3 linked regions of the Homo sapiens genome follow. The protein of the gene in region 2 purifies or fractionates together with the protein of the main gene of each other region. This does not show direct contact. Each region holds a gene or a part of one and is shown on either strand. Other genes may lie near its edges.

What was found.
Region 1: the proteins of CCDC97 (region 2) and ATF1 purify together in Homo sapiens (affinity purification with mass spectrometry; 2 studies listed by BioGRID and IntAct, with this or other methods). This does not show direct contact.
Region 3: the proteins of CCDC97 (region 2) and PIP5K1A purify together in Homo sapiens (affinity purification with mass spectrometry; 2 studies listed by BioGRID and IntAct, with this or other methods). This does not show direct contact.

The regions. Positions count from the first base shown.
Region 1 is NC_000012.12:50,795,023-50,798,671, reverse strand, and holds part of ATF1 (cyclic AMP-dependent transcription factor ATF-1), read right to left. Parts: intron 2,775-3,649; exon of another isoform or gene 2,764-2,774; coding exon 2,663-2,763; intron 1-2,662.
Region 2 is NC_000019.10:41,308,552-41,312,300, forward strand, and holds the start of CCDC97 (coiled-coil domain-containing protein 97), read left to right. Parts: upstream 1-1,620; 5' UTR 1,621-1,759; coding exon 1,760-1,805; intron 1,806-1,925; exon of another isoform or gene 1,926-2,464; intron 2,465-3,749. UniProt on the Homo sapiens protein: May play a role pre-mRNA splicing through the association with the splicing factor SF3B complex which is involved in branch-site recognition.
Region 3 is NC_000001.11:151,229,538-151,233,186, forward strand, and holds part of PIP5K1A (phosphatidylinositol 4-phosphate 5-kinase type-1 alpha), read left to right. Parts: intron 1-2,133; coding exon 2,134-2,264; intron 2,265-2,710; coding exon 2,711-2,828; intron 2,829-3,013; coding exon 3,014-3,166; intron 3,167-3,649. UniProt on the Homo sapiens protein: Catalyzes the phosphorylation of phosphatidylinositol 4-phosphate (PtdIns(4)P/PI4P) to form phosphatidylinositol 4,5-bisphosphate (PtdIns(4,5)P2/PIP2), a lipid second messenger that regulates several cellular processes such as signal transduction, vesicle trafficking, actin cytoskeleton dynamics, cell adhesion, and cell motility.

The sequences.
Region 1 (3,649 bases), on a different chromosome or scaffold from region 2:
TTTCTTTTCAGATGTTATAGCCTTCCTGAGAGACCCCTACTTAATAAAGAAATCTCAGGTTCAGGCTGGGCATGGTGACTCACGCCTGTAATCCCAGCACTTTGGGAGGCCAAGGTGGGCAGATCACGAGGTCAGGAGATTGAGACCATCATGGCTAACACAGTGAAACCCCGTCTCTACTAAAAAATACAAAAAATTAGCCAGGTGTGGTGGCGGGCGCCTGTAGTCCCAGCTACTCGGAAGACTGAGGCAGGAGAATGGCATGAACCCAGGAGGCGGAGCTTGCAGTGAGCCGAGATTACTCCACTGCACTCCAGCCTGGATGACAGAGCGAGACTCCATCTCAAAAAAAAAACAACAACCATGAAACTACCCAAATTAATCATTATTACTATTGTTCTAAAAAGCCAATGCTAACTGAAATGAATTGTCTTTGTTCACCATACTTTCTCACATTTATATTCCTTTCATTTTCTTCTTCCTGAAGTATACACTTAAGTAGTTTCTTTTTTCTTTTTTTTTAGAGATGGAGTCTCACTCTGTCACCCAGGCTGGAGTGCAGTGGCACGATCTCAGCTCACTGCAGCCTCCGCCCCCTGGGTTCAAGCTGGGACTACACGCATGTGCCACCATGCCTACCTAATTTTTTTATTTTTAGTAGAGATAGGGTTTCTCCATGTTGGCCAGGCTCGTTTCGAACTCCTGACCTCAAGTGATCCACCCGCCTCGGCCTCCCAAAGTGCTGGGATTACAGGCGTGAGCCACTGTACCCAGCCTCCTTAAGTAGTTTCTTAAATCAGTTTGAAAATGATTATTATTTCACCGTCATTTTTGAAAGACTGTTCAGTAGGCACAGAATTCCAGGTCAAAAGTTACTTTCTCTTTGAATTTAAATATTGGAGCCTGAGTACAGTGGCTCATGCCTGTAATAGCAACACTTTGGGAGGCTGAGGTGGGAGGATCACTTGAGCCCAAGAGTTTGACACCAGCCTGGTCAACATAGTGGGACTCTATCTCTACCAAAAATTAAAAAAAATTAGGTGGGCATCATGGCATATGCCTATAGTCCCAGGTACTCAGGAGGCTGAGGAGCTGACCCCAGGAGGTTGAGGCTGCAGTGAGCTGTGATCACACCACTGCACTCCAGCCCAGGCAACAGGGTGAGACCTCCGTCTCAAAAAAACATGTAATAATTTAAAGATAAAAATAAGGATTTTAGTTCATTGTCTTATACTGTACTTCAAAAATCTGTTGTCAGCTTACTGGTCCTTCCTTTCTAGGTAATTGGTCTTTTCACTTGGAAGCTTTTAGCTTTTAAGATCTCAGGTTTATCCTTGGTGTTCTCCAGTTTTACTTTACAACATACACCTAGATGTAGGTTTCTATTAATTTATCTTGTTTGGGACCTTGCTTTCTTATGCTGAGAAATTCATATCCTGGAAATTGCAGTCATTATCATTTTCTCTCCTGGAGAGACTAGAAGCTGGAAGTGCCCTTCCCTCTTCTCTCCTTTTATCTATGTATGTTGTGTACTGGACCTTCTCATTCTGTGTTCTATCTTAACTTTGTCTTTCTGTGTTCCATTCTAGGTAATCTACTCAGAGCTGTATCCTCAGGTTCTCTCATTTTGTCTTCAGTTACGGGTATTAACCCCTTATCAGATAAGTGGTTTGCAAATAATTTTTTCCCAGTCCGTAAGTTGCCTTTTCATTTTGTTGCTTTGTTTCCTTTGCTACACAGACACGTTTTTTAGTTTGACGTAGTCCCATTTATTTATTTTTTTGTAGCCTAAGCTTTTGGTGTGATATCCAAAAAATCATTGCCAAGGTCAATGTCGAAGAGCTTATCGCCTATGTTCTCTTCTAGGATTTTTATGGTTTCAGGTCTTAACATTTAGGTCTCTTATCCATTTGGTGTTGATTTGTGTAATGGTGTAAGATAAAGATTAAATTTACATTTTTTTTTTTTTTTGAGACAGAGTCTTGCTCTGTTGCCCAGGCTGCAGTGCAGTGGCACAATCTCGGCTCACTGCAACCTCCGCCTCCCAGGTTCAAGTGATTCTCCTGCCTCAGCCTCCCAAGTAGCTGGGATTACAGGTGTGCACTACCACACCCGGCTAATTTTTCTATTTTTATTAGAGACGGGGTTTCACCATGTTGGCCAGGCTGGTCTCAAACTCCTAACCTCAGGTGATCTGCCCGCCTCAGCCTCCCAAAGTGCTGGGATTACAGGCATAAGCCACTGCATCCGGCCAAAGGTCCAATTTCATTTTTTCTTGGAGACAGGATCTTGCTCTATCACCCAGGCTGGAGCACAGTGACACAATCACAGATCATTGTAACTTCAAACTCCTGGGCTCAAGCCATCTTCCCGCCTTAGCCTCTAAGTAGATGGGACTACAGGCGTGCGCCACTATGTCCAGCTAAGGTTTGTATTTTTTGAAGAGACAGGGTCTTGCCATGTTGCCCAGGCTGGTCTTGAACTCCTGGGCTCAAGCAATCCTACCTCGGCCTCCGAAAGGGTTGGGATTATAGGCGAGGGCCAACCAATTTCATTCTTAACACTGACGCGTGCTAACTTCTTTAGTGTACTTTGCACAGCACCTCTTGAACTCATTTGGTACTATCATAACATGCAGGGCTTCATACAAGAGAGTACTCACCTGTAAGATGGGCGCCGTGCTAGGATCCCGTGGGCTTTCTGTGAGGAGCCTATGCTGTCGGATGAGTCCTGGGACTCCTCACTTTCTGATAAAGATGATACCTAAAAAAGAACTGGCATTAACATGATGAACAATGCAGGTGGGAAAAGAAACAACTGAATTTTTACTTTTAGAAAAAAATGATCTGTCTCCTGCCACTCCAATTCATTTGTACATTAAATCTAAAGTCTAAAAGAAAGGAACAAAAGGAAAAGGAAAAATGAGAAAGTTTATTCCAGGAGCCCAACCTATTAAAGGAATATCAAATATAGCAGGCCCAGAGCTGAGAATAAAGTCTGTCCCCCAAATGAAGCAGTACTATTTTACCAGAGTTAAAAAGACCAGGCTCTGATGTCATTCTCCACCCTATTTCTACACTGATGCACATTACTTAAAAGTGTTGTTTTATTACTAATCTACCTGACATGCTAAGTTTGAAAAACCTGTTATATATTCAACTGCTGACATTGAGACGAATATTAAATATACAAGCCTGTAGGTCTGGGAAGAGGTCTGGGCTAGATACATAAATTTTGGAGGTCTAGCTTTTTAGAGTCCTTAAAGCCATGAGACTGGATGAGCTCATAGGGGTAAATAGAAGAGGACTGAGGACTAACCTCAGGAACACTAAGAGACTGGATGAAGAGGAGGAACCAGCAAATGAGACTAAGGAGTCACCAGTAAAGAAGAGAACCAAATGATTGAGCTGTCCATGGAAAACTAGTGAAGACAGCATACTGAGGAGAAAAGAATGATCAACCATGTCCAATGCTGTTTACAAGCTGAGATAAAATAAAGACTGAGAACAGACCATTCGATTTAGCAAGGTGGAGGTCACTGGCAATGGCAGGTATAAATATATGCCATTTTAAAATCTGTATGATTCAATTTTATCTCATTTCACAAGTTAATACATGCAACACTTGGCATGCATACAATGTTAATTTT
Region 2 (3,749 bases):
CGGGTAGGGCATCAGAACGTGAGAAGGAACCAAGGTTGGTGGCTAAAAGGGACCCTAGAATGCGCCAGAGAGGAGGTGGCAGGGCCTTTAGTCTGGAAAGTCCCCTTCCCTTCATGTCCATATGCTGGGCTACAGCGCCCTCTGCTGGCCTCTCCTGGTAATGCCTAGGAATCTGGGTTGGTAAATAGGGACCTCCTTGGCTTTCTTCCACAACTCCAGACCTCAAGGGAATGCAAATGGGGAAGCTCTTCCTCTGTTCTCAGCCAGTTTTTCTCACACGTCTCATCTCCAGTCCCTTGATGCCCACTCCCTTCAGAATAAAGGAGGTCAAGCCACTTACTATGGCTTATGAGGCCCTGCATGGCCTAGCACCTGGTAACATCGCTGGCGCCCTCTCTTTCTGCTCCCCCTTTGAATATCAAATCAGTGTTTATTTTGTTCTGAGGAGCCATAAGTCCTTTTTGGAACCCACAAATGATGCCATGAACCACTGCATTGGAGAATACAGAGGTACATGGAATTTTGCATAAAAATTCATGAGGTTCTCAAAACCTCCACAGCCCAATCATGGCTTTCAAGTTAGAGCTCCTTTCCTATGCCCTGACCGTAGTGAAGTGCTTGCAGCAACCAGAACCGTCCGTACGTGCCATCCTCCTCAAGACTCTTCCCTACCTTCCTCTTAACCCAGCTCCTACTCGTTCTTCAGGTCTTAGCTTGAGGGTACCCTCCCAGAAAGAAGGCTTCCTTGACCCTCCAGCCTGGGGTGGACAGCTCCCTCAGCCCTCTGGATCCATCAAAGCCCTGGCCACTGAGTGACATGTCTGTCTACTCTGCTGGTAACACCTAAATAGAGCCCCACCCATCCCATAGGGAAATAAGGACCAGAGTTGTCTTGTTTCACACCTGTAGATTTCCTCCAGGTCCTGGGAACACAAAATGGGAAGTTCTATCTCACTATCCATCTCATGCCAGCCAGAGACAGGGTATGATGACGGAAGTAAGCCAGGCTGGTGGCTCACGCGCGTAATCCCAGCATTTTGAGAGGCTGAAGCGGGAGGATTGCTTGAGGCCAGGAGTTGGGGACTAGCCTGGGCAACAAAGTGGGACCCCTGGCTCTACAAAAAAATTTTAAAAATTAGCCGGGCGCGGTTGTGCGCGCCTGTAGTCCCAAGTACTCCAAAGGCTGAGGCAGGAGGATCACTTGAGCACAGGAATGTGAGGTTACTTGAACTGTGATCGCGCCACTGCATTCGTCTAGGCGACAAAGCGAGACCCTGTCTCAAAAAAAAAAAAAAAAAAAAGAGTCAAGGCTTAGTAATATTCCTGAATTCCTGAAGGAGTTAAGAAAGGAAAAGGACAAGCGGGGGTCTAAACGAGAGCACGAACCCTCAGCGTATGACGGCTCCAGGCTCCGGGGGAAAGTCCTTTAGCCATCCATCCCAAAATTAAGCACGCTGGGAGCTGGAGTCACAGCAGTGATAAAACGAACAATGATTCTGGTTCCTACTGACTGACAGGAGAGGTTTAAGGGTCTCTCACTCTCCGGGGAGCCCCTTTCCTTCCTGGCTGCGGAGGGCGGAGCCCGAGAGAGGCACGCATGCGCAATGCAACGTCTGCCTTAGGCCCGGAACTTCGGTGCCTGGGCGCAGCGGTGCACCCGGACCCGGAACATTCTCAGGCGAAAGTGTCTCTTGCGTGCGTGGGCCGGAGGTTAGTGTGCGGGGCCCGCCGGGCGGTTGAAAAGTCCGAGAGAATCAGGATGGAGGCCGTGGCGACGGCGACGGCGGCGAAGGAACCCGATAAGGGTGAGATCTTGGTCACGCGCAGGCGGCGGGTGGGTGCGGTTGCGGTGTCTCTAGGAAATGATTCCCCCAGGAACGCGAAGTAGGACTCGTTTTAGGGGGACACCCACCCCCCTCAGCTTTACCGGTCCTCTTCACTACTTTGCCCAGATTATTCCCTCCCTTGTCGCGGGCTGACCTTCTTTTCCTCCATTCCTTCCCCCCGAAATTAACCTCTTCCCAGTTCCAGACCAATCCTTTCCATGTCCCTAATTCATTTCCTTACCAGGCTAACTCTCAAATTAACAGAAACCTCTCTACCCCGGCCTAATTCCTGCATTGCCTCAGACCAGCCCTTCTCAAATTACCTCCTTCCCTGTACCAAGCTGAGCCTTCCCTTGCTCTCTAGACGAATCCTCCTACCTTTCCAGGCTAAACTTCTACCTGCCTCATGCAAACTTATCCCAATCTAACGATTCCTTCATTTCATTGTAACTCCCGTTTCCCCCAAAGTCCGAAATCCAGCCAGGCTCCTTTCAAAGTCCTTACTCAATTTCTGTGCTTTCCCACAACCTTCAAAGTAATCCGACGTCGGGTGAGGTGTGATTGGAAGCGTGGCTCCAACACCACTGGCCAAGAATTGGTAATTGTGGAAGCCAGATGGAGATGATTGGTATATGGAGGTAGGGGGAGAATTGTCGTTGTACTTTCTACTTTTGTGTATGTTTGAAATTTTCTAAAAATAAAAAATTTAACCTAAAAAAAGTCTTAAGGCCGGGTGCAGTGGCTCCCGCTTGTAATCCCAACACTTTGGGAGGCCAAGGCAGGAGAGTTGCTTGAGCCCAAGAGTTTGAGACCAGCCTGGGCAAGAGAGAGAAACCTGATCTCTATAAACATTTAAAAATTAGCCAGGCCTGGTGGCTAGGGAGTAGCTAGGACAAGCTACTCAGGAGACTAAGGTGGGAGTGTCACTCGAATCCTTTGAGATTGCAGTGACCTAAGATTATTACACCACTGCACTCCAGCCTCTGCAGCAGAGTGAGACTTGAGCCCAGGAGTTTGAGACCAGCACTGGCAACATAGCCAGACCCCATCTCTACAAAAAATTTAAAAATTAAGGCCGGGCCCGGTGGCTTACACCTGTAATCGCAGCACTTTGGAAGGCGGAGGCAGGAAGATCACCTCAGGTCAGGAGTTGGAGACCAGCCTAGCCAACATAGCGAAACCCCATCTCTACTAAAAATACAAATATTAGCCAGGCGTCGTGGTATGTGCCTGTAATCCCAGCTACTCGGGAGGCTGAGGCACCAACTGGAATCACTTGAACCCGGGAGGCGGAGGTTGCAGTGAGCAGAGATCGCACCACTGTACTCCAGTCTGGGTAACAGAGCAAAACTCTGTCTCAAAAAAAAAAAAATTAGCCAGGTTTGATGGTGCATTCCTGTGGTCCCGGCTACTCAGGAGTCTGAGGCGGGAGGATCACTTGAGCCCAGGAGGTCAAAGCTGCAGTGAGCTGTGTTTGCACTATTGCATTGCAGTCTGAGCAACAGAGCAAGACCCTGTTTCAAAAAAAAGAAAAAAAATTTGTCTCTTGGCCCCATCTGTCTCCTTCAGAGAGTCATGTATACTTGGTCTTCATTTCCTCGTCTCCTGCTCACGACTGTCTGACTTTTCTCCTAAGAAACTGCTCTGATTAGGGTCTGCACTGACTTCCCCCATGTTGTTCAATTCAGTCCCCCCATTCAGGTTTTTGTTTGTTTGTTTGTTTTTTGAGAGAGTCTCACTCTGTTGCCCAGGCTGGAGTGCAGTGGCATGATCTCAGCTCACTGCAACCTCCACCTCCCAGGTTCAAGTGATTCCCGTGCCTCAGCCTCCCAAGTAGCTGGGATCACAGGTGCCCGCCACTATGCCTGTCTAATTTTGTATATTTTTAGTAGAGATGGGGTTTCACCATGTTGGCCAGGCTGG
Region 3 (3,649 bases), on a different chromosome or scaffold from region 2:
TTTAGTAGAGATAGGGTTTCTCCATGTTGGTCAGGCTGGTCTTGAACTCCTGACCTCAGGTAATCTGCCTGTCTCGGCCTCCCAAAGTGCTGGGATTACAGGCATGAGCCACAGCACCCGGCCATTTAGCTCTTTTTATATGTTGAACATTAAGATAAAAAGATGAGTTTCTATTATAACTGGGGAGGCAGGTACTTAAAAAAAAAAAGAAACTAATAATTTATTTTCCTTTGACCTATTTGTACATGAAAAAAACTAGTTGTAGGCTGGGCATGGTGGCTCATGCCTGTAATCCCAGCACTTTGGGAGGCCGAGGCAGGTGGATAACGAGGTCAGGAGATCGAGATCATCCTGGCTAACACGGTGAAACCCCATCTCTACTAAAAAAAAAATACAAAAAATTAGTCGGGTGTGGTGGCTTGCGCCTGTAGTCCCAGCTACTCAGGAGGCTGAGGCAGGAGAATGGTGTCAACCAGGGAGGCGGAGCTTGCAGTGAGCCAAGATCACGCCACTGCACTCCAGCCTGGGCGACAGAGCGAGACTCCGTCTCAAGAAAAAAAAAACAAAAAACTAGTTGTAATTTATTGCCCATTGAGGACCAAGTAGAAATATAAGTAATGCCTGGCCGAGGTTGGGGATGAGGCAAATGGAGCAAAGCTATCTAATCAAAGTTTCTGCAGTGATTGAAATGTGCTGTATCTGTGCTATCCAATATGGTAGCTAGTAGCCACACTTGAACTGTAAGTAGTAAGACTGAGAAAATGAAGTTTTAAATTTGAGTTAACTTAAATTTAAATAGCCATGTGTACCTAGTGGCTACTGTTATCAGACAGCAAAGATCTAGATGATGCGATACTTTCCCACGGGCTTGGAATCCTGGATTGTAAGAGTGGGGCTCTTGTATTTGTGTTTTGACCAAGTTTGATAATTCTAAGTCTGAATACTGCTCTCAGAAATAATTTGAGTCTTTCATGCTTTCTTCTTCAGTTAGGAGCTCTTTTACCACACTGTTGCCCTTTTTTTTGAGACAGTCTGGCTGTGTTACCCAGGCTGGAATGCAGTGGTGTGATCTTGGCTCACTGCAGCCTCCGCCTCCCAGCTTCAAGCAATTCTCCTGTCTCAGCCTTCTGAGTAGCTGGGACTACAGGTGCACACCACCTCATCCAGCTAATTTTTGTGTTTTTAGTAGAGACGGTTTCACCACATTGGCCAGGCTGGTCTCGAACTCTTGGCCTAAAGTGGTCTGCCCACCTCAGTCTCCCAAAGTGCTTGGATTAGAGGCGTGAGCCTCCGCCCGCGCCCACCCCACCCTGTTGGCCTTGAGACACACTAGTCAGGCCCTTCCTTAGAGGACTGAAGTTTCTGCCGCCAGGCAGTCAGATCAGAATATTGGTTAATTTTAGGGCTGGGCATGGTGGCTCATGCCCGTAATCCCAGAGCTTTGGGAGTTCTGAGGTTAGGAGCTTGAGACCAGCCTGACCAACATAGTGAAACCCCATCTGTACTAAAAATATAAAGAATAAGCAAGGTGTCGTGGTGCATGCCTGTAATCTCAGCTACTCGGGAGGCTGAGGCATGAGAATCGCTTGAACCGGGGAGGCAAAGTTTGCAGTGAGCCGAGATCATGCTGCTGTACTCCATTCCAGCCTGGGTGACAGAGTGAGACTTAGTCTCAAAAAAAAAAAAAAAAAAAAGGAATATTGGTTAATTTTAGTTACATTCGATATCAGATGAAGGAAATGTTTAGAGGGCTCCAGATACACTCTGGGGGCAGAAACCTTAGGAGTGAGAACTAAGAACGTTGTGTCAATACAATGTATCTTCCAAATACAAATATGGAACTCTTGTTTAGGCAGGCCAACAGGAGGGAGCACCTTGCCTAGCTGAGGCTGGCTCAGAGAGTCCCAGCTTTGCTACTCTGTATCCTCACTGTCCTTCCAATCTTTACTAAGCTTAATTGCAGAGTACAGCATAGGGATGGGGAAACTGGATTGTCCCAGTTTTATCTGAACTATTGCTCAGACTAAAGGATGTTTGTTTTAAAGTGTTCCTTCTAGCTTCCCCTTTCTGAATTTTTATTGTTATGATCCTACTTATACTAGGAATTTTCTTCTCATTTCTCTTGTTTCTCAGACAACCTCATCAGCCTTGAAAGGTGCCATCCAGTTAGGCATTACCCACACTGTGGGGAGCCTGAGTACCAAACCAGAGCGTGATGTCCTCATGCAAGATTTCTACGTGGTTGAGAGTATCTTCTTTCCCAGGTACAGAGTTTAATGTTCAGGAGCATGTCCTGGAAATGTGGCCTTTTCAAATCAGCCCAGGGCAGTTTTAGGGGTTCAGGTCGGACAATTTAGACATGTGTCCATTTCTTAACCTGGTTACAATCAGGGCGATGTGGGACTAGAGAGTTCGGAGAGCAGATACTGTCCTCTAGATGCTTCCATTAGCCTCTGTCCTATGGATTGACCCGTAAAAAACAACCTAATGCATTGGATAGGAGGCAGTGTGATTTCTTCTTCTTCTTATGTCTTGCTGTCCATGCTGTGCCATTGTCTCACTAACTCATCTAAGAAGGGCTGTGATTATCTTAGGAGGAATGTATTCCCCCACTCCCCCCACCATGAGGTGACTCTGAGTGTCTTCGCAAGGTAGATTCTCTGGATGATAGGGACTGGCAAGTTATGGCTACCTCTGTTTAACCCCACAGTGAAGGGAGCAACCTGACCCCTGCTCATCACTACAATGACTTTCGTTTCAAGACCTATGCACCTGTTGCCTTCCGCTACTTCCGGGAGCTATTTGGTATCCGGCCCGATGATTACTTGGTAAGCATCTGGATATCAGGACACTGTGACTCCAGTATCAGAGGGATATTCCCAAAGGAAGGCCCCTTTTCTCCACAGTCTCGCTCTGGTTTTTATTTAGAAAAGAATTGCATCTGTAGTTGATTTTTGTGTTGGGCAAGGCCCTGATGTGTCTAAATCTCTTAGTTCTTCTCTGTTTGCCCCAGTATTCCCTCTGCAGTGAGCCGCTGATTGAACTCTGTAGCTCTGGAGCTAGTGGTTCCCTATTCTATGTGTCCAGCGACGATGAGTTCATTATTAAGACAGTCCAACATAAAGAGGCGGAATTTCTGCAGAAGCTGCTTCCAGGATACTACATGGTAAGGGAGAGAGAAGCACTGTCCACCTGTGCTGCTCACTTCTGGGCAAGGCTGGGGAGGCTGTCTTCAGCAGGGTAAAACAGTGTCAGCACTTCTATCTTAAGAGTGTAGTTCAGGCCAGGCACGGTGGCTCATGCCTGTAATCCCAGGACTTTGGGAGGCCGAGGCAAGAGGATCACAAGATCAGGAGATCAAGACCATCCTGGCCAACATGGTGAAACCTCGTCTTTACTAAAAATACAAAAAATTAGCCAGGCGTGGTAGCGGGCGCCTGTAGTCCCAGCTACTCAGGAGGCTGAGACAGGAGAATGGCGTGAATCTGGGAGGCGAAGTTTGCAGTGAGCCGAGATCCTGCCACTGCACTCCAGCCTGGGTAACAGAGCAAGACTCCGTCTCAAAAAAAAAAAAAAAAAAATGTTGTTCAGTTTTGTGCTTTTCACCCCATTTCTTTTGCCTCTCTATGGTAAAAGGGGTTTTGTTTAT